Regions from separate parts of the Homo sapiens genome. Here region 1 is linked to region 2. The links come from fine-mapping of genetic effects on gene expression. A gene starts in region 2. The other region holds a variant in brackets. All regions are shown on one strand. Distances are between the middles of the regions.

What was found. PIP is the estimated chance that this variant, and not a neighbour inherited with it, causes the effect.
Region 1: its variant is fine-mapped to the expression of SHISA8 in whole blood (INTERVAL, PIP above 0.99).

The regions. Positions count from the first base shown.
Region 1 is chr22:41,888,111-41,891,011 of GRCh38, forward strand. All of the region lies in intron 11 of SREBF2 (sterol regulatory element binding transcription factor 2), which reads left to right. Among named protein-coding and RNA genes, the nearest start is that of MIR33A, 11 kb to the right of the region's middle. The variant TA/T (reference allele first, on the strand shown) is at 1,591.
Region 2 is chr22:41,913,426-41,916,326 of GRCh38, forward strand. SHISA8 (shisa family member 8) reads right to left here and starts at 1,649. Exons shown (of 4, transcript NM_001207020.3): 1 at 713-1,649. The coding sequence starts at 1,242. RefSeq lists silencers at 848-957, 1,028-1,107, 1,248-1,327, 1,368-1,437, 1,508-1,587 and 1 more and an enhancer at 950-1,875.

The DNA.
Region 1 (2,901 bases), 25 kb before region 2:
TCTAGTGAGAGCACAAGCTCTTAATTTCAGTGAAATCCAGATTATTAGTCTTTTCCTTTACAGTTAGACATTTTAAGTCCTGTTCAATAAATCTTTGTCCTACCTCAAAGTCATGAAGATATTCTCCTATGTTGTCTGCTAGACGCTTTATTTTTTACTCTTTACACATATGTACCTAATCCACCTGGAATTAATTTTTATAAGAGTTGGAGGTAGGAGTGCAAGATCTGTTTTTCTCCATAAGGATATCTACCTGACGCAGAACCTGTTATTTTAAAAACTATCCTTCCCCTGCTGCACCAAGTGGCACCTTTTTTTCATAAATCAAGGATCCGTGTACCGTGGGTCTGCCTCCAGATCTAGTCTGTTCCACTGCACCATCACCACCCAACCCTAACGGCTGAGTTTTCTCTTACGTCTTGATGTCTGGAAGTGTTGGTCTTCCAGATTTAGTGACTAACGATGAATCTTGGGTGTTTCTTTGTAGCCTCTTCATTCTACAGAGGTACTTGATGCTGCTGATGGACATTTGGGTTGTTTCCAGTATTTGCCGTTATAAACAGTGCTTTAGGGAACATTTTTGTCCATTGTCTTCATGCACCTCCATAAGAGTTTCCTCAGACCAAATCTGTAGAGATGGTGATGCTGTGTCAAAGGATATAAATATTTGAAACTTAATAGTATTACCAAATTTGCATATTCAGTAAGATGGAAAAAGGAGAACTGTCATCTTTAAAGTAACTGCTCTTCTCTGTTTACTTCTCTTGAGAGAGGATAAAGAGACTCAGACAGTACTTTCTTATAAAGGAAGAAGCTTTGAATTTGGTGAGATATATTTAGCTACAAATGAGCCAGTTGTTGGGGGCAAGTGGAGGGCTGGCCTCTGTGAAAATGGTTTAGACTAGAGGTTCCCAAACTTGCTCAACTCATGACTCAAGATTCCCAAACATTCTCTACTCACTATGTCTCAGTAAATTTTTCATGGCATCCCTTAGCCAAAAGAAATACCTAACGGTTCTGGTTTTCGTTTTTTGAAACAGTGTCTTGCTCTGTTGCCCAGGCTGGAGTGCAGTGGTGCAATCACGGCACACTCTAGCCTCAACCTCTCTGGGCTCAAGTGATCATCCCACCTCACCCTCCCGAGTAGCTGGGACTGCAGGTATACACCACCACACCGAGCTTATTTTTGTATTTTTTGTAAAGTCAGGGTTTTGCTATGTTGCTCAGGCTGGTCTCGAACTCCTGGGCTTAAGCGATCTGCCCACCTCAGCCTCTCAAAGTGCTGGGATTATAGGCATGCACCACCGCGCCTGGCCTCTGTTAAGTAGTTAAGTTTGAACATCCTAATAGGTATTTAAATTGTCTTAACAGCTTAGTGGTCATTTGAAAAAATCATATGTCAAGTTGAAAGAAGAAATAATATTTTTTGCTAGGAGTGGTAGCACACACCTGTGGTCCCAGCTCCTCAGGAGACTGAGGTAGGAGAATCTCCTGAAACCACGAGTTTGAGGCTGCAGTTAGCTATGGTCACACCTGTGAATAGAGCCACTCCACTCCAGCCTGGACAACATAGTGAGACCATGTCTCTAT[TA/T]AAAAAAAAAAAAAAGAGGTTGGGCACGGTGGCTCATACCTGTAATCCCAGCACTTAAGGAGGCTGAGGCGGGTGGATCACCTAAGGTCAGGAGTTTGAGACCAGCCTGGCCAACATGATGAAACTCCGTGTCTACTAAAAATACAAAAATTAGCCAGGGATCGTAGCACGCACCTGTAATCCCAGCTACTCGGAAGGCTGAGACAGAATCACTTGAACCCAGGAGTCAGAGGTTGCCGTGAGCCGAGATTGTGCCACTGCACTCTGGGTGACAGAGCAAGACTCTGTCTCAAAAGAAAGAAAGAGAGAGAATATTTTGGATTCTTAATAATTTCTTAGAAATCATGGTTATTAAGAATCCAAAATATTCTTTTATTTATTTATTTATTTTTTGAGATACAGCCTCACTCTGTTGCCCAGGCTGGAGTGGAATGGCTCTTCACAAGCATGGTGTCACTGTTTCTTACCAATACATGAACCTGTCAAGCACTGCACACCTCAAGCTTTGGAATCAGACTAGCAACCATCACTCTCTCTCTTTTCCACATTGATTTTCACACAGTACTATGACAGATATCACATCTCCAAAGGAAGCTAGTGTGGTCTCAATGCTGAGGCTGCATGCTCTCCCCATCTAGTCACTTACAGTGCCCAGCTGATGTTGAGCATCACTGTTTTCCTCGAAAGTTTAAAATAGCCAGTGGCTCCCTTGATCACTTGCTGTGGCACCTCAGACTGCCTTGGCACACGATTTGAGAGCCATGGGGTTAGACCGATGTTAGGGGACACAACCTGGGGTTGGGACTGGCCCAGGGATACTGAGTGGCTCTCAGGATCTAAACAGTTGTGGGGTTCTTGCCACAGCCTCTTTCACATCAGGCAATTAGCAGATGAGTTACAGGGGGAGGCTCCTAGGCCCCAGTTGGGGAAGATTCTGGTGTCTATAAAATTTAGGAAAACTTAAAAAAAAATTTTTTTTTTTTTGGCTTGGGATTACAAGCCAAGCCACCAGCGTGGCCAAGATGGTGAAACCCTGTCTCTACTAAAAATATAAAAATTAGCTGGGTGCGGTGGCGGGTGCCTATAATCCCAGCTACTTGGGAGGCTGAGGCAGGAGAATTGCTAGAACCCAGGAGGCGGAGGTTGCAGTGAGCCAAGATCACACCACTGCACTCCAGCCTGGGTGACAGAGCAAGACTCTGTCTTTAAAAAAAAAAAGAAAAGAAAAGAATTAAGCTTAAAATACATTTTTACTTAGTGATTTCCACATTTGCCTTTCTGGTTCCTCTTGCCGTATGACCTGGACTAGG
Region 2 (2,901 bases):
GGACACATAGAGTCCTAGAGTCCTCGTTCCAACCGAGGAAGGGGACCTGGACCCTGTAGTGCCCACTTCACACCAAGCTCAGAATGCAACAAGCACCTGTCCTGGCCTCAGCAACACACGACTGTGTTCCAGAGTCCCCTTTCTACGCAGAGGGAGCCCTGACCTTCACCTGGGAGCTGTGGCATGGGGTGAGTGGGGGGAGGCCTTTGAAACCCAAGGAGGGAAGGGCAGCCTTGAGTCACAGCTGTGGGGGCAGGGGAGAGGCAGGAGGTGGAAGAGGGGAGGGAGGAGTGGGGAGAAGCAGGAGATGGGCACCCAGAGAACCAAGCGCCCCTTCCTTTCCCGTGCCCAAGACGCCCGGTCACCTCCCTGGCCAGCGGCGCCCCTTACCCTGGACAGTGACCCGGTGCCCTCTGTGCAAGGCTACCTGTCCCCCTCCCAGCCCGCCCCCACCCCCCTGCCCTCCAGAGGAGACTCGAGCAGGGAAAGGCGGTGCGGCGCCCAGCACGGGCAGAAGGTCAAAGGGAGTCAGGGCGGTGTCAGGTGTCTCCCTGATGAAGTGTTGGGGGGGCGGCGGGGGGAGAAGGAGACAGGAAAACCCAGAGAAGGGGCCTGCTGGGAGAACCAGCGCTTCGAGAGCGGCGGGAAGGATCAGCGGGCAGGGAGAGCAGTCCGAGGAGCAGGCGGGGGTCCCTGGGCGGCGCGTGCTCACCTGGTCACTGTGCGCCGCGCGCGCGGGCTGTGCGCCCTCTCCAGTCCCAGGCGCGCCCCGATGCCGGCCAGCACCAGCAGCGCTGCGACGCCGCACACAGCGTAGACGGCCGTATGGCTGCGCTCGCGGCCGGGGTCCCGGGGCGCTGCGGTGTCGCGGGCGCGGGCGGGCGGCCGGCCTGTCTGGACCCAGGCCGGCGTGTCGTAGTTGGAACAGCGGCTCTGGTCGAGGCGCCGCGGCCCGTCGTGGCAGCAGAAGCGGTAGCCGCACGTGCCGCAGCAGAAGCTGTAGGCTCCGGAGCTGCAGTTGAAGGGCGGGTCCCACTGGCCCATCACGTCGTAGTAGCCGCGGCAGCGGTCGCCCCCCTCCGGGGCTGTCGTGCCGGGCGCCGCGGGACCCTGCGCCTCGGGGGCTCCCGCGCGGCCCGACGGCGGCCGCGCCAGCAGCAACGCGAGCCGAAGCGCGAGCGCGAGCCGGAGGCCGGGAGGACGGCGGCCGCCGAGCAGTCCCCGCGCCCCGGCCCGCGCCATCGGGCCCGCGCCTCCCGCTACTGCGCCCGGTGCATGGCCGGGCGCCGCGGCTCCCTCCGGCTCGGCTCCTCCGCTCCCGCAGGGATCGCGCTGGCTCCCGGCGCACGCCGCCTCGGCCGTCGGCCTCCTCTGGGGACCCCAGCCCCGAGTGGGCTGGGTCTGGAGCTCCGAGGCCGCACCTCCGGTGGGCGCGTCCTCCGCCCGGGCTCACCTCGGACCCGAGCTGCCCGGTCCGCGTCCTGAGATCTTCCCCGGGCCGGGCGGCGGGTCCTCGCCTGCGCGCGGCCCCCGGCTTCTCCCCGGCCCGGCAGGTGTGCGGGTCTTGGCCCTAGCGGAGGCCGCGCCGGGGCCGCGGGCCGCCCGACTGCGCTACCTTCCCGCCGCGCTCTCAGTACAGCCCGCGCTCTGGCTCCGGCTCCGGCTCCGGCTCCCGCTCGGGCTCGGCGCGGGCTCGGGCGGGCGGGGGAGGGAGAGAGGAGGGAGGGCGGAAGGGAGGCAGAGCCGGGGGAGGAGCGCGGCTGCCGCGAGGGGCGAGAGGAGGCAGCAGGCCCCGCGGAGCCGGGAGGCCCCACAGGGAACCCCCCTCCACAAAGACTGCCCCGAAACATTCATCGGAACTGGGCGCTCGAAGGGGATCAGTTCTAGGGCCCGCGACTAGAGCGTCCCTGTCTTACAGGTGCGGGGACCTGTACCTTACAGGCGCGGAGGTCAAAGCAGCCCGGAATTGCCCCGGGACGGGCAGGGCCACCCTCTCACCTCCTTCCCGTCCCCTCTGTCCGTTCTGATCATAACATAAGGAGGGCCCCTTCCCCTCTCGGCGCCTCGATTTTCCCACCTGTCAAATGGGAAGGACTTCCCCTGGCAGCGCCGCTTCAGAGGGCCAAGGATTTACCCCACGGCGCGAGCCCAGTTCCAGAACCCCTCGAACGCTGGGCTGGGGTCCAGGGATGTCCCCATCCCTGCGTCGATGGGCACGGCTTGGCTGACGCACTTCCGCGATCTGCTCCCTCCCCAGGTGTGAGGAGAGGGGGACTGGGCTCGCCCCTGCCCTGGAAAAGGAAAGCCTGGAAAAGGAAGACCTCCGCCCTGCGCCCACCCGCAGGTCCTTTCACAAACCGAGGGGTAGGGTGTGGGGGCCCTAAGGAGCCCGGACCCGGTCCCAGCACGGCCCAGTGGTGTTTTCGGGGTTGAGTTGAACTGGAGAAGGTCCTGGTGCTTGGCTTCTCCCTGCCTCAGTATCTCATCTTAACATCAAAGACTCTTCCTGGAGGGCAGACTCATAATCTGCCCCTTCCAGGAGATAGGGGTCGATATGGAACCTCCCTCTGTCCAGACGGAAACAGCAGGAGGGCAAGGACTGGGCGTGCAATTCACCCAGTGTGCAGCTCAGGCCTCTGTCGGCATTTGCTGAATGAATAAATGAATGAAAGGACTCCAGCGCCTAGTTTCTGTGAGATGAAACATTTGGGGCTCCCTAGGGTCCCTCCTGGTCCCCTTTCCATCCGTCCTTCTCTCAGCAACTGGGACCAGCTTATGAAAGTGGAGAAGGTGGGGGAGAAGAAGAGGAAGGATTTACATTTTAAGGAGGATCAAGTCTGTTGCCTGACATGAGGGGCTGACAGACTAATTTCAGGTATTAATGGGTTCAGACAGGAAGAG